Homo sapiens: one gene and its partner. The protein of the gene in region 1 interacts with the protein of each later gene in a pairwise test. Each region holds a gene or a part of one and is shown on either strand. Other genes may lie near its edges.

The links.
Region 2: the proteins of UHMK1 (region 1) and DEPDC1B interact in a two-hybrid assay, tested with the Homo sapiens proteins (one study listed by BioGRID).

What each region holds. Positions count from the first base shown.
Region 1 is NC_000001.11:162,494,968-162,511,477, reverse strand, and holds the start of UHMK1 (serine/threonine-protein kinase Kist), read right to left. Parts: upstream 13,661-16,510; 5' UTR 13,478-13,660; coding exon 13,210-13,477; intron 11,524-13,209; coding exon 11,231-11,523; intron 10,566-11,230; coding exon 10,374-10,565; intron 7,725-10,373; coding exon 7,630-7,724; intron 1-7,629. UniProt on the Homo sapiens protein: Upon serum stimulation, phosphorylates CDKN1B/p27Kip1, thus controlling CDKN1B subcellular location and cell cycle progression in G1 phase. May be involved in trafficking and/or processing of RNA.
Region 2 is NC_000005.10:60,692,797-60,709,652, forward strand, and holds the start of DEPDC1B (DEP domain-containing protein 1B), read right to left. Parts: upstream 7,371-16,856; 5' UTR 7,298-7,370; coding exon 7,250-7,297; intron 1-7,249.

The DNA of each region.
Region 1 (16,510 bases):
GAACTCAATTTGGCTGGGTGTGGTAGCTCACATCTGTAATCCCAGAACTTTGGGAGGCAGAGGTGGGAGGACTGCTTGAGCCCAGGAGTCCGAGACCAGCCTGGGCAACATGGCAAGATCCTCTCTCTACAAAAAAATTTAAAAATTAGCTGGTGTGGTGGCATGCATCTGTAGTTCCAGGATCACTTGACCCTATGAATTCAAGGCTGCAGTGAGCCATGTTTACACCACTGCACTACAACCTTGGCAACAGAACGAGACCCTGTCTCAAAAAAAAAAAAAAAAAAAGAAAAAGAAAAAAGAAAAAAAGAGCTCAAATAACTTTATAGCAAGGAAACAAATAGCCCAATTAAAAAATGGGCAAAAGACCTGAACAAACATTTCTCAAAAGAACACATAAAAATAGCCAACAGTATATGAGAAATGCTCAATATCGCTAATCAACAGGAAAATGAAAAACCAAAACCACAATGAGGTATCACCTCATACCTATTACAATAGCTATCATCAAACAGACAAAAGACATAAAGAAAAGGGAATCCGTACACATTGTTGGTGGGAATATAAATTAGTAAAGCCATTATGGAAAGTAGTATGGAGGCCCCTTAAAAAAAATTTTTAAAAAAGAACTACCAGCAATCCCACTACTGGGTATATATCCAAAGGAAATGAAATCAGTATGATGAAGAGATACCTGTAGGCCCACGTTTGTTGCAGCACTATTCACAATATACAAGATATGGAATCAACCTAAGTATCTATTAACAGATAAGTGTTCATTTCTTGCATGTTAGCTTAAAAAAAAAATTAAAAAACAGATGTGTAAAAAGTAAAAAAAAAACAAAAAACACAGATGAGTAAAAAAAGAAAATATGATATATATATACACAATGGAATACTATTCAGCCACTGAAAGGAGCAAATCCTGTCATTTTCAACACAGATGAACCTGTAGGGCATCATGTTAAGTGTTATAATAAGCCAGGTCCAGAAAGACAAATACAGCATGATCTCACTCATATGTGAATTCTAAAAAGTGTTGATGTCACAGAAGTAGAGAGAAGAATGGTGTTACCAGAGGCTGGGTGGGGGCGTTAGAGGAGAGAGGAGTTTGGGGAGACATTGGCCAAAGCCAAAAGATGCCTAATTACAGTTAGATAGAAAGAATAAGTTCAAGAGATCTACTGCACAACATGGTGATTCTAGTTAATGATGATATATTGGATTCTTGAAAAACATAGGGAGTGAATGTTAAGCACTCTCATCACAAAAAATAACTATGTAAAATAATGCATTTGTTCATTAACTAGATTTAATCATTCCATTATGTATATATACTTTAAAACACGTTGTACATGATACATACAATTTTATGTCATTAAAAAAAGAAGACCGAGATGCTGTTATAGTCTAATAAAATTAATGTATCTCTATATAGCTACTGAAGTGTTTGTGGCATAAAAAGACCATTATTTCCTTATTGTAAGTAAGCATTTATAAAGTAAAAATAAGCCACTTAAAAAACAAAAACTAGGCCAGGCGTGGTGGCTCACGCCTGTAATCCCAGCAATTTGGGAGGCAGAGGTGGGTGGACCACTTCAGGTCAGGAGTTTGAGACCAGCCTGGCCAACATGGTGAAATCCCGTCTCTACTAAAAAATACAAAAAATTAGCCAGGCATGGTGCTGTGCACCTGTAGTCCCAGCTATTTGGGGAGGCTGAGGCAGGAGAATCACTTGAACCTGGGAGGCGGAGGTTGCAGTGAGCCGAGATCGTGCCACTGCACTCCAGCCTGGGCAACAGAGTGTGACTCCATCATACACACACACATACGAAAAAAAACCTATAGTGCCAAACTATCAATAGTTGTAAGATTTGCACTATATTGGCATCTATGTGTAAGAAGGCAGAGGAAAGCTACAATTGATCTGATGAACCAGAAAAAAAATAAACCCAAACAGCCAAAAGGTACTCACTGGACTGCACAGCAAGATGCTGGAGAAAAGCAGCTGAAACTATAAGGGGTTATACATTCTAATACTAAGTGAATACAAGCAGTTCTTTGTAAAATCATAAGAGGTTGGAGTAATCTAGACACTAAGACCTCTTAAAACTAACCAGCCAAAGCTTTCTTTCAGTGCAAAGTCCCACAGTGAGAAGAAATCTTGGGAACACAATCCAAATTGAGCAGGATGAGGGGAGAGAGAGAGGCACCAGAAAAAAGCAGAAGAGAAGAGCCAGGAGATCTCTGAAAAAAGCCACTTTTTGGGGAATATTATACAAAACAACAGAAGAGGGAGCCCTATATAAGAAAAGTTATCCCAAGTATATTTTCTTTAAGTTTAGGAAAATAATTTTCACATAAAAATGGGCAACATAAAAAGGATTATAACTGACTGTGCGTGGTGGCTCACGCCTGTAATCCCAGCACTTTGGAAGGCAAAGGCAGGAGGATTACTTGAGCCCAGGAGTTCAAAACCAGCCTGGGCATCATAGTGTGACTTTGTCTACAAAAAAAATAAACCAGGCATGGTGGTGTATGCCTGTGGTCCCAGCTACTTTGGAGGCTAAGGTGGGAGGATTGCTTAAAGCTGCAGTGAGCTGTGATCACACCATGGCACTCTAGCCTGGGTCACAGAGTGAGACCCTGCCTTGAAAGAAAAGAAAAGAAGAGAAAGAAAAGTATCTATTGTACAAAAAAAAAACTGCAAAATGATAAATCTCAGATAATGTATGCCAGAAAGATATGACCATTATAATCTACTTTTTTTTTTTTGAAGACAGAGTCCTGCTCTGTCACTCAGGCTGAAGTGCAGTGGTGCAATCTTGGCTCACTGCAACCTCCGCCTCCAGGATTCAATCGATCCTCCTGCCTCAGCCTCCAGAGTACCTGGGATTACAGGCAGATGCTGCTAGGCCCAGCTAAATTGTGTTTTTAGTAGAGACGGGATTTCACCATGTTGGCCATGCTAGTCTGGAACTCCTGACCTCAAGTGGTCTGCTCACCTCAACCTCCCAAAGTGCTGGGATTATGGGTGTGAGCCTACCATTTCAAAATGAGCTAAATGGCCAGGCGTGGTGGCTCACGCTCATAATCCCAGCACTTTGGGAGGCTGAGGCAAGCAGATCACTTGAGGTCAGGAGTTCCAGACTAGCCTGGCCAACATGGTGAAACCTTGTCTCTACTAAAAACATGAAAATTAGTTGGGCCTGGCAGCATCCGCCTGTAAGCCCACCTACTCAGGAGGGTGAGGAGGGAGGAACGCTAAAACCTGAGAGGCGGAGGTTGCAGTGAGCACTGTGCCACTGCACTCCAGCCTGGGTGACAGAGTGAGACTTTGTCTTCTCCTCCCCCTGCAAAAAACTCAAATGAGCTAGACATTTTTAAAAAACGATATAAGATGTGAAAGAGCAACAGAAAAAAAATTGAAAATCACAAAAATAAGGTAATAGAACTCAGGAAAGAATTAGACATTTTAAAAATCATTTCATAAAATAAAATTACACTATAAGAGATACAAGGATGAATAAACATAACAAATAATGTCTTAAAGAGTAGGCAAAAAGGAGGATATTTTTAAAAATAAAAAAGAGGCGGGGCACGGTGGCTCATGCCTGTAATCACAACATTTGGGGAGGCCGAAGCAGGCGGATCACGAGTTCAGGAGATCGAGACCATCCTGACTAACATGGTGAAACCCTGTCTCTACTAAAAATACACAAAATTAGCTGGGTGTGGTAGCGGGTGCCTGTAGTCCCAGCTACTCGGGAGGCTGAGGTAGGAGAATGGCGTGAACCCGGGAGGCGGAGCTTGCAGTGAGCCGAGATCACGCCACTGCACTTCAGCCTGGGCGACAGAGTGAGACTCCGTATCACAAAAAAAAAGAAAAAAAAAAAGAAAGAATGGGTTGGGGGTGGTGGCTTATGCCTGTAATCCCAGCATTTTGGGAAACTGAGGCTGGAAGGTCACTTGAGTTCAAGACCAGCCTGGCACATGGTGGGACCTCGTCTCTTAAAAAAAGAAAGGAAAAAGAGATAATATAGAATCAAGATAAAATGGCAGCTGGGCGTTGTGGCTCACGCCTGTAATCCCAGCACTTTCGGAGGCCAAGGCAGGCGGATCACGAGATCAGGAGTTCAAGACCAGCCTGGCCAATATGGTGAAACCCTGTCTCTACTAAAAATATAGAAATTAGCCAGGCATGGTGGCAGTAGCCTGTAATCCTAGCTACTTGGGAGGCTGATGTGGGAGAATTGCTTGAACCCAGGGGACAGAGGTTGCAGTGAGCCGAGATCATGCCACTGTACTCCAACCTGGGCAACGAGCAAAAACTCCGTCTCAAAAAAAAAAAAGAAAGGAAAAAATGGCAACATTGAATATAAGGCAAAGAAAATCAAACGTATGTAGACGAGGAGGACATGAAAGTGAAAACCAAAAAGAACAGAAAAAATATTTAAAAACTGTAATTTAAGAGACATACCGTATTTCTGAGAATATTGACCCAGAACAATCAAAATCAAAATATATTTTGATAAAATTACTATACATGGAAGAAAAAGTTAAAATCCTCTGGGCATCTAGACAAGAAGACCAAGTGACTCTTTTTTTTTTCTTGAGACAGAGTCTCCCTCTGTAGCCCAGGCTGAATTGCAGTGGCACGATCTTAGCTCACTGCAACCTCCACCTCCCAGGTTCAAGCAATTCTCTGCCTCAGCCTCCTGAGTAGCTAGGATTATAGGCACGTGCCACCAGGCCCGGCTACTTTTTTTGTATTTTTAGTAGAGACGGGGTTTCACCACCTTGGCCAGGCTGGAAGACCAAGCGACTTTTAATGAAAAGGCAATTACTGAGTCATCAAACTTTCAACAGAAACACATGCAGTAATATATAGGACACTCAAGGAAACAAAAATGTATGAGATTGGGATGAGACACATACAGGACTTCCAGGGTGACAGGAAAAGTTTTATTTCTTGGTGTGAATGGTAGTTACAAGATGGGTACAATGTTCCTACAGATTAAGCTACACATTTGTTTAATTAGTGTTTTTAGTGTCTGTGCTTTATTCAACAACAGCAACAAAAAAGGTTCAGCGACTTGCATGCATATATAATGCAATATGCAGAAAAATAGTGGAAGGAAATATACCAAAGTGCTAACACTAGAATGTGGGTTTATAATTTTTATTTTCCTCATGATGACTTTCTATAGTTTCCAAATTTAGTATTCTATGTAAAATGGTGGGGGGGGGGGGGCTATTATTTAAAAAAAATAAAAATAAGAAAGTCAATACTAGAACTTAGATGAAAATTTAACTTCCAGGCTAGAATCCATTTTATAATTTTTCATTCCCATCTCTTCAATGTAAAATGCAATTTATAATATCTCATATCAATCAGATACTAACAGCTATTTAAAACTAATTTGAAAAACACACACAAGTAAGTATGCGTAAAACTGGTGAAATAGGAATAAATCATGTGGATTATACCTATTTCAATTTACTGGTTTTGATACTGTATATACTACAGTTATGTAAAAAGTTACCACTGGGGGAAACTGGGTAAATGGTAGGGACCTCTCTGTAACATTTTTGCAAAGTCCTGTGAGTCTGTAACTATTTCAAAGTAAAGAGTTAATAAAACTAACTTAAAGGTTTATAGGGCCAATATTCAAAGGAAACTATACTACTCTAACTCAGACAAGGGATCCATACTTTTCTAGCATACTAATTATTTTATTCACTTCCAGTCCATAGTCTAGAAATCTGAAAAACCTACTATTTAATAATACAGTCATATACTGCACAATGACGTTTTGGTCAACAATGGACCACATATATGACAGCGATCTCATAAAATAATACTGAGCTGAAAAATTCCTATCGCCTAGCGACATCGTAGCTATCATAATGTCCTATCGCAACACATCACTCACATGCTTGTGGTAATGCAGGTAATGCAGGTGTTGCGGTAGGACATAGATGTAAACAAAACTACTGTACTTGATAATGACAATACATAGCTGTGTTACTGGCTTATGTATTTATAACTATATATTTTTTTATTCCTACTTTAAAGTACATCGCCCTCCCCCAAAAAGTTGACTGTAAAATAGTCTCAGGCAGGTCCTTTGTGAGGTATTCCAAAAGAAGGCATTGTTAACATAGGAGATGACAGCTCTATGCATGTTACTGCCCCTGCAGACATTCCAGTAAGACAATATGTGGAAGTGGAAGACAATGATATTGATGATCCTGACCCTGTGTAGGTCTAGGCTAAGGTGTGCTTGTGTCTCAGTTTTTAACAAAAAATTTTAAAAGTAAATAAGATAAAGAAAAATTAAAGTTTATAAAGTAAAAAAGTTACAGTTAAGCTAATTTATTATAGAAGAAAAAAAATTTTGGCCAGAAGCGGTGGCACACACCTGTAATCCCAGCACTTTGGGAGGCTGAGGCAGACAGATCACTTGAGGTCAGGAGTTCGAGACCAACCTAGCCAACATGGTGAAACCCCGTCTCTACTAAAAATACAAAAATTAGCCGGGCATGGTGGCATGCACCTGTAATTCCAGCTACTCAAGAGGCTGAGGCACAAGAATCGCTTGAATCTGGGAGGCAGAGGTTGCAGTGAGCCAAGATTGTGCCACTGCACTCCAGCTTGGGTGATGGAGTGTGACTCTGTCTCAAAAAAAGGAGAAAAAATTTTAAAATAAATTTAGTGTAGGCAAAGTATACAGTGTTTACCCTTAGTCTTATAGTGTACAGTAATGTCCTAGGCCCTCACATTCACTCACCACTCACTCACTGAATTACCCAGAGCAACTCCAGTCCTGCAAGCTCTATTCATGGTAAAGTGCCCTATAAGGTATACCATTTTTAATCTTTTATACTGTATTTTTACTGTATCTTTTCTATGTTTAGACACAATACTTACCATTGTATTACAACTGTCTATAGTATTTGGTACAGTAACACGCTATATAGGTTGTAGCCTAAGAGCAATAGACTGTGCAATATAGCCTAGGTGTGGGCAGAAGTCTGTATCATTTACATTTATGTAAGTACTATATGATGTCAGCATGGCAAAATCACCTAATGACATATTTCTCACAACAGATCCCTACTGTTAAATGACACGACTGTACACATTTGTATTTTCAAAATATCTATTGTTTTCGGATCTATTCAGATATCAGAAAAACTGTATCTGTCCCCAGACCGTTGTCAAGAGTAATTATTTAAAGTATAATAAAAAACTATCTTATTCGAAATGGTTTTTGGGTCTTTTTTTGGGGGGAGGGGAGTAGTCCAAAAGCAAACTCAATCTTTAGTTAAAAAAGACTCTCTTTAAAAACCTGCTTTCCATCAAGTATCCAGAACTGCCAGGGCTATGAGTGGCCAAAGGTACAGTGAATCTATCTTCCAGTGAAAAGGCAGCTGCCAGGAAAAGCTTAACATCTGATACTATGAGCAAAAGAGCATTCCTTTGAAAACAAATTTGGTAAAACTATTTCATTACTTATGTTCCTTACATAGAAATAATAATATAAATCTGTTCAGAGAAAAAAAAGACGTACCATTTCACATAGTACATGAATGCAAAGCAAGTTTATGGTACGTGTAACATACCTTTTGATAAGGTCTCTTAGGTGATAGGCTGGAATTGCGGCATTCACCACTGCTTTACTGGCAAATATGTGATCAATAATAGCAGAACTGTTTGCCTTAAAAAACGGAGAAAAGTTTTCCTTTGGTTATTCAGTCTGTATTTATTGAATACTAGGCATATAGCACTATTTGAGAGTAAAATGCAACAGAAAACACTATCTTCTGAGAGCCTACAATCTTTTTTTTTTTTTTTTTTTTGGAGACAGGGTCTTGCTCTGCCACCCAGGCTGTAGTGCAGTGACGCAATCTCAGCTCACTGCAACCTCTGCCTCCCAGGTTTAAGTGATCCTCCTGCCTCAGCCTCCTGCGTAGCTGGAAATATAGGTGTGTGCCATCACATCCAGCTAATTTTTTGTATTTTTTATAGCTATGGGGTTTCACTATGTTACCCAGGCTGGTCTCAAACTCTTGGGCTCAAGTGATCTGCCCACCGTGGCCTCCCAAAGTGCTGGGACTATAACTGTGAGCCATCGTGCCCAGCAAGAGCCTACAATCTTAACAGAGGAAATAATATACATAATTACACACTTCTGGAGAAGAACATTTTTTTCTTCATTTTCAGCGCCTAGCACTCTATGAACATCTACTAGATGAAAGAATAAAAAATAAATACCGAAGTAACCACATAAGAATGTAGTTTAATGCAAAAATGAATGTATAATAGGTGACTCAGGGTATCTCCGTAACGAGTCTTCAATTGGTTTTCAGGCAGAAATAAACTATCAAAGCGAATATGATGCAGTATTAAAACATCTTATTTGTCATATTACTCATTCTCTAAATCTTTACAGAATATATTTTCTCCTTGAATACTATGCTAACTCACAATTTAGAACTGTGTACATGAGTTAAAAGAACAGATACTATCATTATCAGTAAAATTTATTAAATACTTACCATGAGCTGTTTGCTAAAAGTATCATTTCTTTATTAACCTCAGTAGTCTTATGAGATAGATGCCATTATTATCCTCATTTTAAAGAAAGCAAACTATGGCTTAGTGAACCTAAATAAATAACTTAGTAAGAGCTTTGTGGAGGCAAGATACAAACCCTAGTAGCTTGACTTTAGAGCCTATGCTCATAATCAGTTGGCAATTTTGCCTCCATAGAAAGGGATAAAACAGAAAAATAGCGTTTTATCTAGAGGCATATATTGGAGATCCCATTACTACACATCACCCCTCTAAATTTCACACAAATTTGAATGTGATCTAGTTCTGATGAGCTCTAGGCCAAGCAGATATAGTCCAAAAGGCTCAAAGACAGTCAAAACTCATTCAAATAACTGATCTATGTCTGGATTAGCACCAAGAAAGAATACGTAAGACTCTTGATTGTTTGGGATATCAATAATAAAGAATGATACTGATTTTACTCCCAAGAAAGCAATTTTTACCCATAAAAGCATCAGGTACATACATTGGGCTATTAAAATATCCCTTCCAGGAAATGCTACAATGGAAATCAGTGACCAGGTGTTTAAAAGAAACAAAACTATATGTTATAATAGCTATACAGTATGTATTAGATGCTCAAAAAAACACTTGTTGCTTAGTATCAAAAACTTGTTGCTTAATATCTAAGTTCCAAACCTCTAATATTTGAATGAACTTTTTATGCATTTATAAATTAGGAATTAACTACAGTATGTTTTCAAAGGTATTGTGGGGCTTTAATGTTGTGATAATATCAGTATCCTTTAGGCTACTGTTTAAGTGATCCTCCTGCCTCAGCCTCCTGGGTAGCTGGGACTACAGGTGTGTGCCATCACACCCAGCTAATTTTTTGAGGTTTAATAAATACAATGTTTTGGAATGATTATTGTTCTTGATATTAAACAAGTATTAAAATACCTTTTATAATTTTTTTTTTTTTTTTTTTACTAGAGACTGGGGTCTCACTACGTTGCCTGGGCTGGTCTCAAATTCCTGGTCTCAAGTGAGCCTCCCACCTCAGCCTCCAAAAGTGCTGGGATTACAGGTGTGAGCCACCATGCCCAGCAAAAATATTTTTTAACTGTAAAGCAGTTAAGATAATCTATAAAACTTATCATTTAACTTATAAGCTATGGTTGTATTAGTAACACTTTAGAACTTAATATTACTGTTAGTAAACAAAAGAAACCACTTTTGTTTCTTCAGGAAAATGCATTCATTCAAACATTTTATCAAGCACTTACTATATGCCAAGCCACAGGCTAGGAACAATAAGAATGCAATACTCACTAGCAGATTGATAGCCATAGGAGTTGGTAGTGGCATTCAAGTATCATCAATAGAAAAAGAGGAGTATGGACAACAGACAGCAATCAAGAGTTCTCTAAAAGAATCATCATAAATTGGCCAGGTGCGGTGGCTCATGCCTGTAATCCCAGCACTTGGGGAGGCCCAGGCGGGTGCATCATGAGGTCAGGAGTTTGAGACCAGCCTGGCCAACATGGTGAAACTCCGTGTCTACTAAAAATACAAAAATTAGCCGGGTACGGTGGCTGGCGCCTGTAATCCCAGCTACTCAGGAGGCTGAGGCAGGAGAATTGGTTGAAACCGGAAGGTGGAGGTTGCAGTGAGCTGAGATTGCGCCACTGCACTCCAGCCTGGGTGAAAGAGTGAAACTCCATCTCAAAAGAAAAAAAAAAATCATCATAAATTGAATACTCTTAAGTTGAAAGTAAGGACCCCAAAGCAAAGCACTGGTGAAGTTTACCTTCCATTCCTGAGATCTGACTGTATGTTTCAGTTTCATTCCTGAGAACATTTCCAGTAAAATGATTCCTAGGCTCCACAGATCAACAGCTGAGGTACATTCTGTATCACTCTGCAGGCCAGCCTGGGCCAAGCAATTTTGCAATTCTGCTTCTGGAGCCCGATACCCGTCTGTCTGAATATACTTTACATCCTAAAAAAGATGAGTAAATATTACAACCAATAAAAAAGCTGCTCCCTTTCTATCCATCTCTACAGTGAATTTACTTCCCTAAGAGTGCAGTAAACCCACTGCCAAGCTAAATGCTAAAAATTTTTAGTCCTTGATTACCATAATTCTTTGGTTCATTAACTGGGCAGTTCTCAGAGGCAAGCTGTACATTTCCATATAGCGCTCATAAAGAAGTCTTCTTTGGATTGTCTCTTACCTATTAGGCACTGCTGATAATAAGGACACTGCAAAGAAATGATAAACCATGGAGAAAAGAGGATTTGGCAGAACTATCATATGCATTCTGCCACGAGATACAGCCCCAACACTGAAGAGACCAGGAATAGTAACTCAGCAATTAGCCAAACACGCATAAAATTTAAAAAACCATTCTATGTAGGTTAAGTACTTTTAATAATTCCAGAGCTCTCATGCTTCACTGGCTCCTCCTACCTGACCCAAACATTATGTCCTTTTTTTACACGGTGGCACTGAAATTCTTTTGATTTACTGCATCCCCTGGCATTTCAGTAATTTAGGTTAAAATGACTTGTAAGCCCCTACTAAACTACCCTTGTCATTTAAAAATATTTGGCTTCAACCACTACATTTTAAACTGCGAGAGAAAAGAAAAGGTTATTTCTTACCTGATTGCCTTCTTTGAAGCTAAGTCCAAAGTCAATGAGTTTAAAACATTCATTCTCTGCACTCCACAATATGTTACGTGGTTTGAGGTCCGCATGGACATAGCCCTCATGATGAAGAAAAGCAAGGGCCTCCAAAACATCTCGGGCACAATGCTGTATCATCCACATGGAACAACCCTGGTGACTGGAATATAAGAGCAATTCCGAAACACTGACATCCAGGAGTTCAAGCAACAGACAGCGTGATGGCACATTTGGAGAAAAGTGGATTGTAAACACTCCATACAAAGTCACTAGAAAAAGAAATTATAATACTTTAAAAATCAGACTCAGAGTAAGTCACTACTAAAGTAGGTAACTGCAGTACAAATTTGAGATAGTCTAGATAAGGATAACTTTGATGAGCAAGCTTCCACTGTAATTTATTTTTCCCATGAATAAGATCTTTTGGCAATTGGGTTATTTTAATAAAAATAAGATGAGACAGCCTACAACAGCTGATTACCATTCACAGATACTAAATATGGTACAATTATTCAATTTGTGTTTCACCAAGTACTCATTGGTGATGAACACGAACTTGGAGTGCCAAGCAAAAATGATTAAAAGTAAAAAACCTAAATATAAATAAATAAAACTTACTGTTGCATCATGAGGTCCTTTAAAAAAAAAGAAATTTTTAAAAGTAAAAACCCAAATATTAAGTAACTCTTTTAAAAGGAATGTCACAATGCGCAAAAACCAAACTAAACATTGCTTCTTCATCCAAAACAGCAGTCTAGGTCTGCCACGGTGGCTCATGCCCGTGATCCCAGCATTCTGAGAGACCGAGGCAGGAGGACTGCTTGAGCCCAGGAGTTTGGAGACCAGCCTGGGTAACAAAAGGGGACCTCTTCTCTACAAAAAATTAGCCAGGCTTGGTGCTACGTGCCTGTAGTCCCAGCTACCTGGGAGGCTGAGGTAGGAGCATGGCTTTAGGAGGAATTGGAGGCTGGAGTGAACTGTGATCTCGCCATTGTACTCCAGCCTGGGTGACAGAGTAAGAACTTGTCTCAAAAAAAAAAACTAAAACAAAAATAAACAGCTCTCTATAATCTAAATACTAACAAAGAGATTAAGACTTTTCGGATGAAATTTTAATCTTGCAGAGATCAGGCAAGTCCCTAGGCTTGCAAAATTTTTCCCTTTTCAATACCAAGGTTATAGTAACAGACCATTTAGTAAACTAAAAAAATGTAGCACTAGTGTTAATTCTTCTCCAAAATGATATTATAAAAAAACTCACTCTTCAAATTAACTATGCATCATACTTGCTAGGAAATAAGACTTTTCTTTAATAACCAAAGCTATAACTAATGATAAGCTTTCTGTCGTGTAATGAAAATGAAACCTTTTCACAGATCAATCATCAGTGATCATTACATATCTTACATTCTGAGTATCTGATTCTTGAAACAGTCTCAAGAGAGCAAAGGTATAGTGTTCCTAAATTTCACACTTCTATAAAGGCTCCCATGGAATAGTGCATCATTTCTTCCAAATCCGTACTAAAGATATAATAGGTGAGCTATACGAGTTACTAGCATTGATGTCACAAGGCCCAGACGTAGTTCCCATTTTCTACTGGTATGCAAAGATTCAAAAATTTCCACACAAGACACGACAATCTAGCAAAGACATGCCTCCTCTCACTAGAAAAGATATTTCTGTATGCTAATGAATGCGGCATTCTCCGATGAGACTCGAAGCAAGACAATTTACTGAGCATCTATGTGACACCTGGCAAAGCAGACCACCAACTCCACTATACCGCAGACAGTAATAAAGTGAAAGGGGAAAGGGGCCTGGATGGGGTGATAAAGAGGGCTAAACCCGCTTCTCCCGCAGAAGGGGAGGAAGATGGAACGCCAGACAGCGAGAGGAAGAGTGTGCTCGGACTGTGACCTGGGCAAGAAGAGAAAGGAGACAGCGGCAATTACCGATGTTTCTGTGACCCTGCAACTGTTCCAGCGCCGCCCTCTCTTTGCGGAAACCATACTCGGCGGCAGAGGCCGCAGCCCCGGTGGTTCCTGGCGGCAAGAACTGCTTGAGGGCGCCGGGGGGCGAGCCAGGGTTGCCGCAGCAGCGAACCCGATACACCGAGGCGGAGGAGCCGCTACCCAGACGGCTCTGTACCTGCCACAGCCGCCCGAAGGCCTCCAGAAAACGCGGCGGCTCCGCGCCCCAGGCGCAGCCGGATCCCGCCATCGGTGTGGGTTAAGGGCACGGACACGGGAGCTGACGCGACGCCTGAGGCAGGCCGGCCGGGCCCGCGGTCACATCTCCGCCAGCCGGACCAGCGGCTCCGCAGGGAGGGACCTGCAGCCGCCTCACCGACTCCCGGGACTTCAAGCAGCCATGACACCGGAAGCCGTGGTGCACCCGAGTCCCAGAAGCCGGAAATGGAGGAAGAGCCTATCATACAGGCCGAAGGAGGGGGGGCTCAGAAGGGGCGGGGCCTAGAAGAGATTAGACGCGCTAGGTTTGGAAAAAAGAACCGAGAATAAGAAGTAACCTTAATTATTGAGTATCTACCATTCCAGGCCCAGTGTTAACCGCTTTCACATAGACCTGAAGCCAAAACTGGTCCTTTTTCTTGTTGAGGCACCTCACCTTACCTCACCACTAGGAACCCGAAAAATAAAACCCGGCCTACATTTCTCATAGAAAGGATCCCAAGGAAAACACCCCAGGAACAAAAAGAGAGTTTACCATCACCTCCAGGTCCACGGTCACCAGAACCCATGATTCTGGAAGCCTAGACCTTTGTTCTTCTTTTAGATGTAAACCGAAAATACAATTCTAAGCCCCCCGTGTCGCCAACCATCGGAATGGACTTTCTCCCAGGCCAGGGCACTCTAAAATTCTGGTTCAGTCCATGACGGGAAGTGGGGGTCCGACTAGCCTCATACCTCTCCGGTTAAGGTCAACACAGACCTTCGGTCTGGTAAGAAACATTTACAATCTATTTTCTTGGAAGCCTGGTACCTGGAGGCTTCATCTGCATGACAAAACTTTGGTCTCCACAAGTTCTTATGACAACCCAGACATTCCTTTCTATTGATAACTCTTTCAACCAATTGCCAATTAGAAAAATTTTAAATCTACCTATAACCTGGAAGGACCCATTTCTCCCCCCACCAATTCCCGCTTCGAGTTTTCCCACCTTTCTGGGCCAAATCAATGTATTTCTTAAATATATTTGATTGAAGTCTCATGTCTCCCAAAATGTATAAAACCAAGCTGCACCCCAACCACCTTGGGTACATGTTCTCAGGATCTCCTGAGGGCTGTGTCACAGACCATGGTCACTCATAGTTGGCTCAGAATAAATCTCTTCAAATATTTTACAGAGTTTAACTCTTTTTATCAACATAGTCCACCTTGCCTATGGCTCCCTCATCAAAAAGCATTCACCCTGGGCAAACACGGATCTGTTCCAAATTTTTATTTTTCATTTATTTATTCAATTATTTTATTCATTCAGCAAACGTTTATTGAGTAACAAATGTAGCAAATAGGCATCTCAATCCACAAACTCGAGTGTGTAAGAAATGTAGCCTTCTTTACTTTTCAGTCATTCAACCTTTTCTATTTCAAGATCTATTCTGATTGTGTGGCAAAAACTTAGTATCAGACAATAGGCCCTATCTTCTTTTCTTCAGGTTTTGTGTAAGTTCCCAGCCAGATGAGATGGTTCATGTAGTGCTAAGTGGAAAGTTTGAGGAGAGGTTGAGGACTAAACTCTGACCTGTCTTCTCTCTTGCTCAATTTTTTTTTTTTTTTTTTTTTTTTTTGGTAAGACGGAGTTTCGCTCTTGTTGCCCAGGCTGGGGTGCAATGGCATGATCTCGGCATCTCCGCCCACCGCAACCTCCTCCTCCTGGGGTCCAGCGATTCTCCTGCCTCAGCCTCCCAAGTAGCTGGAATTACAGGAATTTGCCACCATGCCAGCTAATTTTGTATTTTTAGTAGAGATGAAGTTTCTCCATGTTGGTCAGGCTGGTCTCGAACTCCTGCCCTTGTGATCCGCCTGCCTCACCTTCCCAAAGTGCTGGGATTACAAGCGTGAGCCACTGCACCTGGCCCCAAATTCTTATCTAAGGGATGTGAGGAGTCACAGCCTACAAACCATAAAATCTCATCAGATTGTCAGAGGTGTTCAAACCAGAGCAACTCCATCTTGAATAGGAGCTGGGTAAAATAAGGCTCAGATCTACTGGGCTGCATTTCCAGGAAGTTAGGTATTCTAAGTCACAGGATGAGATAGGAGGTCAACACAAGATACAGGTCACAAAGACCTTGCTGATAAAACAGATTGCAGTAAAGAAGCCAGCCAAAACCCACCAAAACCAAAATGGTGGTGAAGGTGACCTCTGGTCGTCCTTACTACTCATTAGATGCTAATTATAATACATTAGCATGCTAAAGGAAACTCTTACCAGCACCATTACAATTTACAAATGGTATGGCAACGTCCTGGAAGTTACCCTACATGGTCTAAAAAGAGGAGGAACCCTCAGTTCCAGGAATTGCCCACTCCTTTCCTGGAAAACTCATGAATAATCCACCCCTTGTTTAGCATATAATCAAGAAATAACTATAAATATGAATAACTATAAGTCGAGCAGCCTAAGCTGTTGCTCTGCCTATGGAGTAGCCATTCTTTTATCCCTTTTACTTCCTAATAAACTTGCTTTATGGACTCATTCTGAATTCTTTCTTGCGTGAGGTCCAAGAACCCTCTCCTGGGGTCTGGATTGAGACCACTTTCCAGTAACAAGATAGGTTGGTTGGTTGGTTTGTTTGTTTGAGACAAAGTCTCACTCTATCACCCAGGCTGGAGTGCAGTGGCGTGATCTCAGCTCACTGCAACCTCTGCCTCCTGGGTTCAAGGAATTCTCCCACCTCAGCCTCCCGAGTAGCTGGGATTATAGGCATGCGCCACCATGCCCGGTTAAATTTTGTATTTTTAGTAGAGACGGGGTTTTGCCATGTTGGTCAGGCTGGCCTCGAACTCCTGACCTCAGGTAATCCTCCTACCTTGGCCTCCCAAAGTGTTAGGATTACAGGCATGAGCCACTGCACCCGGCCACAAGATGGGTTTTGTTTAACCCCATATAACGTGACTTACTTTCCAACCTAACTCTGGCATAACATCACATGACAGATAAAGAAGGAAATACAAATATTTTAACCCCAAATATATTTCCTTTTTTTTTTTTGAGACGGAATTTCGCTC
Region 2 (16,856 bases), on another chromosome or scaffold:
AATAGAATGCAGTGAAAATGAACGAACTATTGCTACATGCCATAACATAAATGAATCTCAGAAAATAATATTGAGATGAACAGGCCACATATGAAAAGTAAATACTATATGATTCCATTTACTTGAAGCTCAAAAGCAGGCCAAACGATCCATGATATTTAAAATAATGATAGCAGTTACCTTCATAAGGAGGTAGGGACCAAGTGGGGGAAAGGAGACTTCTGCGGTGCTAGTAATATGATATTCCTTGATCTGAATGTTGGTTACATGGGATGCTCACTTTATGAAAATTTGTTGAGTTGTACACTTTTTATACAACTCAACAAATTTTTTGAGCATTTTTCTGTACATTATGCCTAATTAACACCTAAAAACAAAAACACATACATACACATATGCACATGTTCACATACTAAAATTATTACCCACATGAAAGTTGGCAAATATGAACTGGTTGGTTGGGGTGGTAAACTGGATGTGGAAGAGAGTAGGGAGGTTGGAGAAGAAACCAAGTGAGTGGATGAAGGAGGGAAAGTATGTAAACAGGAAAAGCAGAGCAAAGGCTAAATAATGAATAGTAGAAAGGAAGCCCATAAAGAGTCCAAGAACGCTGATTTAACTTCTCTACCTATCCACCCACTTTACAAGGTTATTGTAAGATCAAATGAGATCATGACTATAAAAGTCCTTTGTTAAAAATGCGTTCCTCAAATTTAAGGATAATATATAAAATGTCCAGGATATCTCTTAAATTATAAGGTTCAATCTATTCTAGAGCTGGAAAAAATCTTTGGGACAAAATCAAGACCTTAGCAGGATACACAACTTAGCAAATGTCATTCAGGTACTTAGTCTGTGAATAAGATCTGGAATCCTGTGCTACGGACTTTTCTTCAAGTAGTCATTTCACTATACCAAGTACCTATGGATATTACCATACCTTTAAACAATTTTCACATATTTTTAATCATTGATTATTGATTTTTTTAATACATGCCCTGATACCTAGCTTTCATTTATCATTAGATTGTTGTACCGAAAAGGCATAATCAAGTATGTAGGGCCGGGGGAAGGGGTAATAAAAAAGATTTTTGTTTATGTTGGTTGAACAATCATAATCATGAACTAAAATTACCTAATGCATAATACCTTATGCATTACATAAACATAATGAAGGCATGGCTCTCTGGGACCCAATATTTCCAAATATCACTAGGTATATCCACTAATTGACCCAGTCTGGTTAGCAGTTCTGTTGTTCTTTTAATTACAGAAGTAATAACACTCATTGAAACAAACAAATTAAATACAGAAGTATACACAAAAGAGTTTGCATGTCTTACTCCATACCTATCACATACAGACACATAGACAGAATTTTTCCTTTGTAGGTGTGTCATTTATTGTTGTTTGCCATTTTAAAAAATGAGATCAATCATGTTGTATATGTTATCCTAAAACACGCTTTTGCACCTAACAGATACCTCCCTGCGTCATACCTGCAGATCTAGCCCATTCTTAAGAATGTGCCATAATTTATTCTGCCATTTTCTAACAAATGGTCATCCAAGTTCTGCCCAGTTCAATTTTTACAAATATGTTACAAGTTATACTTGTTTATATAACCTAAAGTACCAAGGCTTTTGTTTACTTTTGATAGACTTCTAAAAAGTATCAGCATATTTAAATCAGTTGTAGCAATTCACACTTCCACCAACAATGTGGGAGCCTAAAGCCTTACACTTTGGCCTACACTAGATGTTATCATTTCTTTCATTTCTGCCAATCTATGTAAAAGAAATGATAGATCCATATTTTGTTTGCATTTTCATATCTTTACCTTTAGTCATATTCATTTCTTCTTCTGAGATTTGCCATTTTTCTATTGGGTTATCTCTTTTTTAAAATCAATTTTAAGAACTGTTTAATCTGTTAATGTTTAAAGGGCACAGAAGTCAGGAAAGTTAATCGATTTTGTTCAGCTCAATATCCTCACAACAAAGACCAGTGCCTGACATATAGTATACCCATTTAATATGTACTGATGAATATAGAATATTAAACCTTTTTGTTATATGTTACAAATGTTTTATCTTAGCCTATCAATTTCTTTACATAGTCTCTAGCTATACAATGATTTTGTTGTAGATGTTGATGTTTTTATAAGGAAATAATTATCTATTTTCTTTATCAGTTCAGGGTTTATTCTCTTAAGAAAGCTTCCCTATCCTGAGGTATTAAAATATTTATCAAAATTTCCTTTTAATATTTTAGAGGGTATGTTTTTTAATATGTAAACCTTTAACTGAATTTTATATGGTGGGAGGCAGGGGATCTCTATTTTTTTCTGGATGGAGAGTTGTGTTAGTCCATTCTTGCGTTGCTGTAAAGAAATACCTGACACTGGGTAATTTATAAAGGAAAGAGGTTTAATCAGCTTACGGTTCTGCAGAGTGTACAAGAAACATGGTGCCAGCATCTGCTCAGTTTCTGGTGAGGCCTCAGGAAGCTTTTATTCAAGGCAGAAGGTGAAGCGGAAGCAGGCAGAAGGAGGCACATAACACAGCAAGGGGGGAACAAGAGAGAGTGAGGGACAGGGTGCCACACTTTTAAACAATCAGATCGCACATGAACTCAGAGTGAATACTCACTCATTGTCATGAGGACAGCAACAGGCCATTCATGAGTGATCTGCCCCAGTGACCCAAACACCTCCACTAGGCCCCACCTCCAACACTGTGGATTACATTTCAACATGAGATTTGGAGGGGATAAACGTCCAAACCATATCAAGAGTCAATTATGCCATGCTTTTCTAAATGAACAGAAATATTATTAAGTAACCTTACATATCACACTTCTTGATTGTTTCTATCCCACTGAGCGACTATCTGTTCCTGTGTAATACCATACAGTTGTCATTACAGTCAATTAATACCAAGTATAAATCCCTGGTAGGACAAGGCCCCTGTCTTCTTTGTAAGGGAATGTGAAAACTTCTTTCTTTTTTTATTTTTTTTGAGACAGAGTCTCGCTCTGGTGCCCAGGCTGGAGTGCAGTGGCGTGATCTCGGCTGACTGCAACCTCCGACGCCCTGGTTCAAGTGATTCTCCTGCCTCAGCCTCCCAAGTAGCTGGGATTACAGGCATGTGCCACCACACCCAGCTAATTTTTGTATTTTTAGTTGAGACGGGGTTTCACCATGTTGGCCAGGATGGTCTTGATCTCCTGACCTCGTGATCCACCCGCCTCGGCCTCCCAAAGTGCTGAGATCACAGGCATGAGCCACCGCACCCAGCGTGAAAATTTCTTTTTGTGAAGTTCATTTCTTTTTGTGAGGGAAAACTTTTTTCAGTTCTCAGAATTTTACTCTTCAGCATGAGCTTTCAATTCATTGCATTCTCCCACACAGGAAAAAAAAATCCATTAGGATTCAGAATGGATTAACTGCTCTATTGCTACTGACTTTTATTTCATACTAGAAAATGTCTAATAAAACATCTTTATCAAAGTCTCATTGCCCCTTTTAAAAAGAGCATTTATAAATAGACTTTTGAATTTACTCATTTTGATTTTGAATGGCATTTATCATTATGGGTTATATTTCCTTAATATATGAAATACTTTAGATTTTTTAAAGCCTACTGAGGTCACTTTGGTCTCTGTTCCCACTTATTTCCAAATATAACTAAGGGGTTATTTGGCTACTCTGCTCAGAAAGAAAAATAAGTATCTTTAAATAATCTAACAATATACCATTCTCAGTCACTTTTGGAAACAAAATATCCTCTGTCAATAAATAACAAGAAAGAGCTTGAGTTTTTTTTTCATGACATTATATTTGAAGAGAATCTTTACAACAAATGGAACAAAACAGATTTGTTTTATGATTTTAAAACACTTTTTGTTTTGCTCTACTTATTAATTTCAGTCCCCTAGTTTCTCAGGAAAAAATAAAATCACACAATTGTTTTTTCTTAACATGATGAGGCAAACTATAAGACATACACCTACTGCTGTGCATCCTGTTCTTTTCTCCAGGATATTCCATTTCATTTCTTCTTAGTACCAAAAATATTATGATAGCGGTGCTATAAAGAAAACTGACTGGTCTGGGAGTTCAGTGACAACCACTCCTAGATCTACTTGCACTTGCCACAACCTCGTTGTGTGATCTTGCCATTCTAACTCTCAGATTCAATGAAAGCTGTATGTCTTTTAAAATTTATCAGTTGCATCAGACCATATATATAACTCAGAATAAGTTCAAAGATTTAAGCAGTTTCTAGAAAAAAAATTTTTCTCTCTACTTGAATGAACTATTTATACCAAGTTTACAAAGATGAAAGTTATTTCAGTGAAAATGTATAAATGGATAACTAGCTTCACATTTATCATGAGTTGGGGCTGTCATTTGACTTTTGTCATAACATTTTACCTAATCCACAAAATGTTATTTTCAAATAAGACTTTGGTGCTTTAGAAAAAGCACCAAAGAGCTTTTTCTAAAGCTGTACATGCTTTGAGAAAGTAAAGTGAGCCATGAAAGGAGAAAATAAAGGCCTAGTTTTTGTATCCCAATAGATTTTTACCAAGCTTCCCCTGAAGAAAGTTTAGAATGAGCATGATGGGAAAAGGGAGAAATTGTATGCTGCAGATAGAGGGAGGAAAGGCCAACTAGGTCCAACAAGTAAAAAGAGGACTAGTCTCAAACTATTAAATATATGATTTACCTAGCAAAAGCTTTAAGTCACAGCTGAATTACACTGGGGAAACAATTACAGACTTTACAATGGAAAGAAGCATCTTCAATGTTGGCTGCAATCACTGACAGCAGGAATACTCACTTTTGAAAAAAAAAATTGGCTATTGTTTTCTGTTTTCCACATCTTAGTTTAATATTATGTTCCTCAAACACTATGAAGTTGAGAACTGAATTGATTACCTGGGAAATTCTGGTGAAACTGAGGTGTTTGTTTCATTAATTATCCATGTCATTTATCTTCTTAACTTAATCAACCTAAATTTAGCCTGAATATTATTTGTTAGGGACTGAAGACTTCTAGAGAGCAGAGAGCACCTTTTTTTAATTAAACAAATTCCTTTGATAATATTTTAATGTGACTCAAGAATCCAGCACTATCTATATATGGACCCTCTGCATCCATGAAAAGAAGTACCTCATACAATTCTGTGAATATGAGACTAAAATACAATTCCAATTATGAGGTATTTTTTTTTTAGTCTAATGCAGGAAGAATGAAGACTAGTCACGTCAAGAACCACAGCCTTGCTATGTTTTCCTTGTGTAAGTGCTGTAAATAAATTGGTGAAGGGAATGATCAAATGCCTTATTTTCCTCCCTAAAGTTAGACTTATCAATATTCTTGACCCCAGATCATTCTGGTGTCTATACTGTATAGAGTGTTCGCAAAGATGAGTGCAATGATTCTTCCCATCCTCTCCACATGCACCTCTGTGGCTTTGCCACCCTGCCCATCAAGAAGTGGAGTTGAATTTCTAGAATCTGGATTTAGCTGTTTAACTTGCTTTGACCAATGAGATTTGAAGAAAAAGTCACAAGCTGAAACTTCCTTTTAGCTACGTTGGAACCATGAGACCACTACGTGAAGATGCCTCCGATAACCTGTTAGAGATATCTGGCCCAGGTAACAGCCAGGACCAAGTCAAGCAGCCATCTTCCATCATCCAGTAATAGCCAAGTCACATTATTTGTGGCACATGAGTGACCTCCACAAAAGAACCATTGACATGAGTCTAGCCCAGATTACTGATCCAAAGGATGAGCAAATAAAATGCTTGTCTTTATGCCAAATAAAACAATGTCACAGACTCTCCCAATCTCCTTATTATTTTTTTTTTTTTTTGAGATGGAGTTTCGCTCGTTGCCCAGGCTGGAGTGCAATGGCGCGATCTCAGCTCACTGCAACCTCTGCCTCCCAGGTTCAAGAGATTCTCCTGCCTCAGCCTCCTGAGTAGCTGAGACTATAGGCGCATGCCACCATGCCCAGCTAATTTTTGTATTTTTAGTACAGACGGGGTTTTGCTGTGTTGGCCAGGCTGGTCTCGAACTCCTGACCTCAAGCGATCCATCCCCTTAAATCATGTAAAATTTCATGAGTATGTGCCATGTGCAGTTTTCTGTGAAGAAGATCCTTAATCTTCATCAGATTCTCAAAGCGATCTATGAGCCAAATTTAAAAAGTAAAGACCCATCAGCCCCAACTATGATTTCTCTTCCAGAAGCTGGCCTTCTCAGCTCTGGCTTGACTTACTGGTATAGTGTGTGGCTGGCTTTGGAAAGAAAAGGAAACTCTATTTACATTATCTGTATCCCAGCATCCTCACCTCTTCCATGAGTCTAGCTGAGTAAGAGTTTGGATGTTAGTTCCCATCTTTTCCTGTGTATTCATTATAATGCATGGAACTATGAGAGTAATTCCCATGTTAAATGTGGCCAGAGAGGTCGGCAGACCAAGGAGCAAGTTACTGTCCTCCCAAATTACCATTACACTTCCACAGAAAGTCCTCTAAAAACTTGCCACAGACATTACCAAACTGTCACCCTTTATTGTTCCAAGTCAAAGCAGACCAAGTACACCTCAATACCAAAGCTTTTCTCCCAGAAAAAAAAAAAAAAAAAAACAGGAACTCAGAGTCGGCAAAGACTCTCCTAAAACATCTGTCCTGGCCAGCTCTTCATCTGGATCGGTGCTGACAGAAACAGAAACGCCAGGGGCCGGAAATGCGGCCAGCGCGATGCCCCTCTGTTCTGGGCACCGTTTATTCGAATACCCCGTCAGGTATCATCAGGTGTCACTCAGGAAGGAGACACGCCCTGCCTGGACTGCCGCGAACGCTGAGCGTTACGGGGTACGTGGTGGCCCCTCAGGTTACCGACCGGGTCGGTTAGATTCCAGAGGACAAAAGGCAGGGAACAGCCTGGTCTTGGGGTCTTTAAACAGAGAGGCGCCATCTACTGCCGAGAACCCAGTCAACATCTCATGGACAAAGCTGCACTAACCCCCGGCCGGCTGAGCTCTGGGCCCCGTTAGCCTTTCTTTGAGGCTCGTCCACTAAAAGGCAGCCCCAGTAGTCCCAGCTGAAATGCTCCACACCCGAGCCCCGCTGGCCTGCGGAAGCGAAGACTGACAAGCACTCTGTCCGCGCGCTGAGTGGGGGCTCGCGGCACCGGGTGCTCCGCCCAGGCCCCAGCACACTCACTCACCAGCCTGGTAGCTCGGTACGGCCCGGGCCCCACGATGCGATGCTCCATGGCGCGTAGGCAGCAGCGGCCGCAGCCGCGCCAGCGCTGATCCCCGCCAGCCGGAGGAGCAGCAGTTTGAATCCCAAGCCCGCGGGCTGCGGGCGCTGATTGGGCGGCGCGGCAGCACGTCACCGGAAATGCGCGGGGAGGCAGGCGTCTTCTCCGAGACCCGCGGCGCTGGGAGCTCCGCGTGCGAACTTGCCCGGGGCGAAATCTGTTGCCCACCCTGGTCCCACCGTGCGAGCACACCTAGGCAGGTGCGACTAAGGGGCCGGGGGCGTCTCCCCAGCGCTGGAAAACGCTGTGCAGCGCCCTTCCCAGATTTCTGCGTCCGCGCAACACAAACACACGCAACGCTATCTCTACAAAAGGGTCAATAATAGGTGTTATCCAGCGACCGAAACCCAGCTTTGGGCCGCGTGGATAAATACCTGTCCTCCCTACCAAGTGCACTGTGAGCCTGGAGGTGCTGCTAACGCTGGGAGAAGCGGTAGTGAAATGAAGCGAGGCGACAGCTTTTACCAGTGTAGGGACATTTAAAAACGGGATAGAGAGCACAAGGAGCGTAGACAGTGTGTTAAGGGCAATAAAGAGCGGGAAGGGAGCCCCGATTCCTCTTCTGTTTGTTCTCATGATAGTCTTTTCCCCTTTAATTTGAGTTCTATGTTTTGTATTGGGCTGATACTTTTAGTCCTCGGCAATAGGGTTGTGAGTCCTTTTTTGACTGCTTAGAATTTTCCCCCTGGGAATTGCTAGTCCGATTTGCAATCTTTCAGAGGGACAAATGAAGTAACTCCATATACTTAGGACTCTGTACACCTACTCAAATTTGGTCATCTCGGTAAGTACCCAGGACAAGACGTTGAAGGAGTGAAGGTGTGCCATTCCAAAATATGCCTAATTGGTATATTGATTATTTCGAGCGGAAAACATTGGAGAAATGGTAGTTTCAGAAAGGGCAAGCTGACCTGCCTCTTCGATGCAGCAGGCCACAAAGATTTCTCTGGGATGGGCATCCTCTCCCTACCACGGTGAGAAAATAGCCTTTATCACCAAAGGCTTGGAATTGAAGGCTGCAGTGGACCTGAATAAACATTCTTAACGAAGTAACCCTATCTTCCACTAGGAGATATAGGAGATTTTTTACATATATCTTCTAGTGACTCCCTAGAAAATGTTACTGCCTTTGTGAGCTGTGGAAGTTAACTCGAGTCACAGGGCACCAAAATATGTTAGCAGCTGCCCATATCCGAGACACGGCCCCAAAGTATGTTACAGGCAGTGAATTCCTACAGATCTGCAGCAACCTCAATTCTTGACTCCTCAGAAGAAAGAGTTCGACTGAGGGGCATAAGGCAAAAGGAGAGACCAAGGCAAGTATTAGAACAGAAGTGAAGTTTATTAAAAAGCTTTGAATGAAAGGAAGTACACTTGGAAGAGGGCCAAGCCAGTGACTTGAGAGATCTAGTGCGTAGTTTGACCTTTTGACCTGGGGTTTTATACGTTGGCATACTTCTGGGGTCTTGCTTTTGGGGCTTTGCATTACTTCTCTCCTGATTCTTCCCTTAGAGTGAGCTGTCCACAGGCGCATACTTGAGCCCACTTGCCCAACTCCTAAGATCTTATCGGGAAGCTGCTGATCAACAGTTCAAGTGTTTTCTATTAGGAGACTGCCTTTCCCTGGTGCCGGCTGTGACCAACTATTATTTTAGAGAGACAATTAACAACCACCTGACCATCACCTGATGGCTGCCTGACATTCCTGATGTGTGTGTGTATGAGGGGGAGCCCTCTCCTGCCCTGCTCATGCCTGACTAGCTACCTACTGTAACACCTTAACCAGATTTTCTTTGTCATGGCTTTTCTTCTCAAATTTATCTCTCTTTACCTAAAAAAATGAATAAAAGCATCTTACTTTGGCCACTTCTTCAGACTTCACTCTCTTGTGAAGATCCCCATGTGCACATAAAACTAATAAAATGTGTATACTTTTCTCCTGGTAATCTTCCTGGTGTCAGTGTGGTTTCTAGATACAACTGGAGAGCTCATTAAGAGGTAAAAGGGAGCTTGGAGGTGATCTCTGGCTCCCCTATAACATCATAAGAAAGATCTAAGTAAGGGATTGGACCACCTCTTCTCATCCTCAAAACCACACCACTACCACCACCCATTTGCTGCCTTAGGTTTTTATTTAGCCCAAGAAATGTCCTGAGATGATACATATATATTGCTTTTGTAATTAGAAAAAGCAATTTAAAATTTTTTTCTTACTTCCAGTAAGTGAATCCTTATCAGAACTTTTTTTCTTTTAACCTCTAAGCTCCATGGAAGAGATCTTCTTGTCCTTGGCAAGGAATATAAAGAGATACTTGTGTCCTTGACACAAGAAGCAGGAGAAAGGGAATTTTAAAGCCTTGTCTGAGACCTGCCACCACCTATCATGGTGGTGAAACTAGAATCTGATACAAAACATTATGTCCAGCATTATGCAGCTTTCTAGTTCGGTAAGTATCACAGACTGTGAAATTCCATAGATCTGGATTTCAATAATGACTGGTACTGCTTACCAGTGGAGTGACTTCAAGCTAATTATTTAATTTCCATCTACTCACTGGTAAACTGGGAATATTAATGATTATCTTGCAGAGTTGTAAGGATGTATGTAAAGTGCTAAATATAGTGCCCAGCATGTATTTAAAGTGCCCAGCATATAGCAGTAATAAAAAGAACTATATATTTTTTTAAAAAAATCATGCCAGCTTCTTGAGCATTTCCCAAGAGCCTGTTATTAGCCATAGACAAGATGGCTGTTACTAGAAAGGCATACTTCCAAAGGATCTACATATCAGAAGACACAAAGAGTCATTGCACGGGCCAGGGACATCTCCCCAACGCTGGACAATGCTGTGCAGCACCCTTCCCAGACTTCTGCACTCACGCAACACAAACACACACACTATTTCTCTACAAAAGGGTCAATAAAATGGTGTCATCCAGCGATGCCTCATGCCTATAATCCCAGTACTTTGGGAGACCAAGGCAGGTGGATCACTTGAGCCCAGGAGTTCAAGACCAGCCTGGGCAACATGGCAAAACACTGTCTCTACTAAAAATACAAAAATTATCTGGCTGTGGTGGCACGCTCCTGTAGTCCCAGCTACTCAGGAGGCTGAGGTGGGAGAATCGCTTGAACCTGGGAGGTGGAAGTTGCAGTGAGCCAAGATCGCCCCACTACACTCCAGCCTGGGTGACAGAGTGAGATCTTGTCTCTAAATAAATAAATAAATGCCTCAAAGAAATCGAGGTTTTACATTTGTTCATTCACTTATTCAGCAAGTATGTAAGAATACACTACTGTGTGTCAGGTATAATTCCAGTCTGAAATCATGCAATAGATAAAATGCAGCTTCTAGGAGCTGACTCCTAAGTAGAGGAAGGGATGACAAGCCAGCTATAATACATTCAAATATGTATTATATATCAGGTGGTGATTGAGTACTGGGAAGAAAAGTAAAAGACTAAAGTGGAGAGGGTGGTAGGGGGAAGTTGCTGTTTTGGTTCAGGTGGTCAGAGAAGGCATCTTTGATGAAATGACATCTGTGTAGACGATCTGAGTAAAGTAAGGGGTAGTTGTCTGGGGAAGAGCTTCTAAGCCGAAAGAATGAGCAGCCCATGAGAAACTTCCAGGAGACATGGGAAGGAGGTTGGTGCTGACTAAAGTGAGGGAGTAAAAGGGGCAGTGGAGGAGATGGAGTTGAATACAGAGTGGAGTGGGGCTTTCAGACCACATTATGGGCCATGGGATTCTGATCCTCTTCTGAATTAGTGAAAATATATTAGAAAGTTTTGATCAGCAGAGTGATCAAAACAGATCACAATCACTCTATTGATCTTTGGCCAATCATTTTGGCCAAATCACTCTGGCCATTGCGTGGATACTGGACTCGGGTAGGCATTGAGGGTGAGAGAGGAGGCAGGAAAACCAGTTGAGGAAGCTGCTACAATACCTCACTGGAGAAAGTAAACATATTTGCTTGGTATGGTGCTTGGCACATAGTGGCATTCAACAACTATTTACTGAGTGAGTAAATGAGTGAGCAAATGTATTGCTCATGTAGTGTATTCTTACATAAGCTTTAGAAGTTATTCATTTCTTAAAGATCAATTTGATTCATTCATTCTGTTTGCCATTTCTCATATGAATATGGGCAACAAAATAATAGCTAGCTTTTACATTTTTATTTTAATGTATCAAATTTGTTTTTAAAACTCTTACTTTTTATCATTAAAGTCCTCTGAGATTTTGAGTTTGGGAAAATACAATCTGCACATACTCCATGACTTGTGTTATAATTGCCCCTCCACCTCCTGCCGCCTCACACACCATTACAGTACAAAGTTAGCATAATAAAACCTGTGCCAAGGAATATAGCTAAATGGATTTTCATATTTGAGAATAAGCTCAATTTCTGACACATCGCAGCTATGCCATGTAGCACATATGGTGAAGTATAATTCTCTACACCTCAGAAAGAGACGTAATGAAAAAAAATTTTAATTAACATTGATCTGGCCAAGAAATATAGGATGAATTAAAGGAGGAAGATTCTGAAGATAGGAAAGCCATTTGGAAGACAGCTGAAGGAATATAGGCATGGAATTCCATGAGTAATAGAGTGTTATGAGAAAATACCCACATAATCTTGAGCAAGACTCACCTTCTCTGATTATCAGTTTCCTCATCAGTAAAATAGAAATAATAATGGTACTTGCTTCATAGGGTTGTTGAAAGACTTAACTGAGGAAATATATACAAAGCTCTTAGAATTTTGTTTCCCTTATATGGTAGGCAGAATTCTAAGAAGGCCCCTATTTCAGAAAAAGAGAACATATATGTACATAATATACATATATGTACAGACAGAAAGAGACAAAAACAGACAGAGATTTATTAAAAGGAACTGGCTCACATGACTATGGAGCCTGATGAGTCCCAAGATCTGTAGTTGGGAAACTGAAAACCCAGGAGACATGATGGTGTATTTGCAGTCCAAGTTCAAAGATCTGAGAAACAGGGCCAATGGTATAGCTCCAGTTTGAAGTCTGGTAGGCTTGAGACCAGGAAGAGCTGATGTTTGTTTCAGTTTGAGTTTAAAGTCAGGAAAAAAATTGTTCCAGCCTGAAGGCATTCAGGTGAAGAAATTCCCTCTCATACAAGAGAGAAACAGTCTTTTGTTTTATTGAAGCCTTCCACTGATTGGATGAGGCCCACCTATATTAGAGAGGGCAATCTACTTTAGTCTATTGACTTACATGTTAAACTATCAAAAATACCCTCAAGAAATACTCAGAATAATGTTTGACCACATATCTGGGCACCCTGTGGCCCAGTAAAGTTGCACAAAAAATTAACCATTACAGCCCCTGAGATCCCCAGCCCCTGATATACATAAACCTTCTTCCCATTATTCAACCAAACACTAATCTAGACACTGCTGTAATGGGATTTTGCACATGTAATTAAGGTTGTTGATCTTGAGGTAGGACAAATATCTAGATAGGCCTACTTAATCATATGAGCTCCTTAAAAGGAGAGAAATTTCTCCAACTAGTTGTATAAGGGAAGCCAGAACTAAATTCCACCAACCTGAATGAGCTTGGAAGCAAATTTTCCCCTAGAGCCTCTACAGGAGAACTCAGCTGGCTGATGCCTGGATTTCAGCCTCCCAATACCTGATACATTGAACAGAAAGCAGCCACACTGTGCCAGATTTCTCACCTACTGAACTGTGAACTAATAAATAGGTGTTGCTTAAAATCCAGTTAATCTGTAGTAATTTCTTATGTACCAACAGAAAACTGATACACATTTTACATACAAAACTCTGAAATGCTTGTTCTAGTTACTCTATGGCTGGAGTAGGAATGGGAGAAAAAAATCAATATTTAATGAGTAATTATTTACAAGGGATGAGGGAGAAGAAAACGTCAAAGATGGCTCTAAATATATTCTGGAAAGCTGGCAAAAAAAAAAAAATTGTGCCATTAACCATAAGGAAAGAAGAGTTGTCTGGGTAAGCAAGAAGGAACATGGAGAAGGGGTCTCAGACTTTCCTGTGCATAAGAATTGTCAAGGTTCTTATGCATAGTAAAGCGCATAAAACTCAATTTTATGGATTCCACCCACAGAGGTAGCTAGAAGTACCTAGATTCCATAGCTAATTTGCTGTTTGACTATTTGCTAGTAGCTCCAAAGATCCATGACATGTACAGATTTCTAATTTTGATGAATCAAAAACTTGAAATCCCCACCTTGGGGGATGGAGTGTAAGAGAATATCATCCAGCTTGTAATTAAGCCCATCCAGCCACCTGGAATCCTCAGCTCAATATGGCTTTCTACTTTTCTAATAGAGAAAAGTAGAGTTAATCTCTACTTTTCATGCCAATGCATGTTACCGGAAAAAATATTTTGTTATACTGATATTGGATAATTCACACAAGCCATTGGACTTATTCCTTATACATGCCAAAGGCCAAAAGAAGTCGATACTTGGACATGCAGCATTCAAATGAGAATGAAATATCCAAAGAGAAATAACCCATATTTGAAAATACTAGATGAAGAGGTTGGGTACAGTTGGGGAAGTTAGAGGGAGGAAGAATAGAGAGAGGAACAGAGGACCTTACCAATGTCCCATTTCAAGGCTTTTGGTTTATGGCCTTGACTGACCTGTTTCTCTGGCCCTCATACTACTGCCTCACCCCTGTGTCTAGACTTATCTTCCTACACCTGGCTCTTCATGTACCACAATCTCTCAGCCTTCCCTGGGCCCGTGATAAATCTTATGACAGGGGCTTGTCCCATTCTTGGCTCCAACCCTGGAGACTAAAGTTCTGGACATTCATCAAAGACCTTCTCCTCTATTTTACTTTTAAAGGCACAAGATTCAAGTTTCTGCCTCAGCAGAATTACAGATCATTACATATTACTGAACTTTGGGGCAGCTGACAAATAGTCAAACAATATATTGTTTGATATCCAGTATTAGTAGATCAGTTGTCTGGCCCATGGCACCTAAGCTCAGTTTTAAAAGAAATGAAAAAAGTAAGATAAAATTATTGGCATTTTTTAAAGATTCATCACAAATGGTCCCTGAAATAGCAAGTGTACTTAATTTAGCTGGGGGGAAAAAAACTCAATTAAAAGTTTAAAAAGGAAGTTAGGGTAGAAGGGTGGGGAATATATAGAACTTTTGGGAAACACTACTGCCAGATCCTACAGACACTTAGAAGAAGTAAGGTGCTCAAGGCAGAGGGTGCTTCCTTCAGGGCAAGATATTTAACAGGAAATTTCTTACACCTGGAATCAACAGTAGAGCATCCTGTGTGCCTAGGCCCATGGACCACACGCACATGCAAGAACCCAGAATCAGAAGTGGAGAGTAGCCGGGTGCACAATCTCAGTGACTGGAGGATTGCTTGAAGCCATGAGTTTGAGACCAGCCTCAGCAAAATAGCGAGACACTTGTCACTACAAAAAAAAAAATTTTTTTTTAATTAGCCAGACTTGGGGGCACACACCTGTGGTCCCAGTTACTGAGGAGGCTGAGGTGGGAAGACTGTTTAAGTCCAGGAGTTTGAGGCTGAAGTGAGCTATGATCATGCCACTGCACTCCAGCCTGGGCAATAGAGCGAGATTCTGTCTCTAAAAAATAAAAAATAAATTTTAAAAAATGGATAGTGGTCGGCGTCACTAAGCCAGAAACAGGATGAAATTGAGATTGTGAGCAAAAGCAGTTGGGGAACAAGGAAGGTCTGTGAGCTGGGGTTGGGGCAGGGTGTCTGTATGTGTTGGGCTACCTTGAAGGGCTAACAAAGGCAACAATGGTGATTGTGTTCGCCCCCAACACTGCTGCTCTTATTTTCTTGCACAGCCAAGCAACTGAAACTTGAAAGGTTATAAAAATATAAAAAACAAAATCATTTTAAGCTTTTGTCCTTACTGATGATGATTAGATTTTATATTTTTCTTTTATTTATTCTTAAAGGTTTTAATGAGAATTCAAATGTAGGCTTATCATTTAATCATATTCAATGTTTTGAATCTGATAAATCCTCTGTGGTATAAAAATACACATTTTATTAAAAGACTTTTTAGAGTAGTTTTAGGCTCACAGCAAAATTGAGAGGAAGGTTCAGAGATTTCTCATATACCCTTTTACCCACATGTGCATAGCTTCTCTCATTATCAACACCCTCCACCACAGTGGTGCATTTGTTACAACTGATGTTTTAACTTTTCACTGGGTTATAATACATTGATATATATTTCTTTTTTAGTAGGAATCTAAGTCCCTTCCCAAATCTTATGTGAAATTGTAATCCCCAGTGTTGGAGGTGGGGCCTGCTGGGAGGTGACTGGATCATGGGGGTGGTTTTCAATGGTTTAGCATCATCCTCCTAGTGCTATTCTCCTGAGGGAGTTCTCATGAGATCTGGATAAAGGGTATAGCACCTCTCCCCTTTCTCTCTTCTTCCTACTCCCACCATGTAAGATGAGCCTGCTTCCCCTTTGCCTTCTGCCATGATTGTATGTTTCCTGAGGCCTCCCTAGAAGCTGAGCAGATGGCCAGCATCATGCTTCCTGTACAGCTTGTGGAACTGTGAGCCAATTAAACCTCTTCTTTATGAATTATCATCCCAGGTTTTTCTTTATAGCAATGCAAGAATGGACTAATACACACATATGGAGAAAAGTACACAAATCTTCTTTATATTTCTTGGTGAATTTCACAACCTAAACACATCCTGTAACCAGCACTCAGATCAAGAAACAATATATGAAGAGTATCCCTCCTCAAGCAGTTCCACAGTGTAATGGTGAACACTCTGGATTCTGAATCCAGCTGTTCAAGTTCAAGAAACAAAGGATGACCAGCACCTGAGAAGACCCTCTCATGGCACTGCCAGTATCTACTCGCTAAGGGTAACTGACACAGATATTTTACTGTGTAAGAAAAAAGAGAAGCAAAAAAGACTATACAGCAGACCAAAAAGGGAACAGACGCTGAGACACAAGTTACTAGGAATTTAGTCCCTCTATGTTATAACCCAAAAACCAATGTTGGAAACTTAAGGAGAAAAAGATAAAAGGATTTTATTTAATAGACAAAACCCTTATAGTATCCAGTTTCAGACTGGATCTACCATTTGTGAATTTTCCTGTTTCAGTTAAAACTAAAGAGTGACTTTCTAGACATTGAAATCTGTTTGACTGCATTTTCCTGTCTAACTTTCTCTGAAAAGCCTCTGGCTTGCTCCTGGAATTAATTCGCAGGGCAGTGGTGTTATTCCAGCTCCAGCGAGGGATTAGTAGAGAGTGGCTCTGCAGAATTCACTATGAAGTTGCCTCCAAATCTGTCAACAAACCAGAACCCTGGAGAGTATTTTAAAAAGAGTTGCCAAGGCCTGACTTCAGAGCCCTTGAAAGTAGCTGCTTTTAGGAGGGAAGGACCAGAAGAGTTACCACAGAAATGTCTTTTTTTTTCTTTTTTTAAGATAGGGCC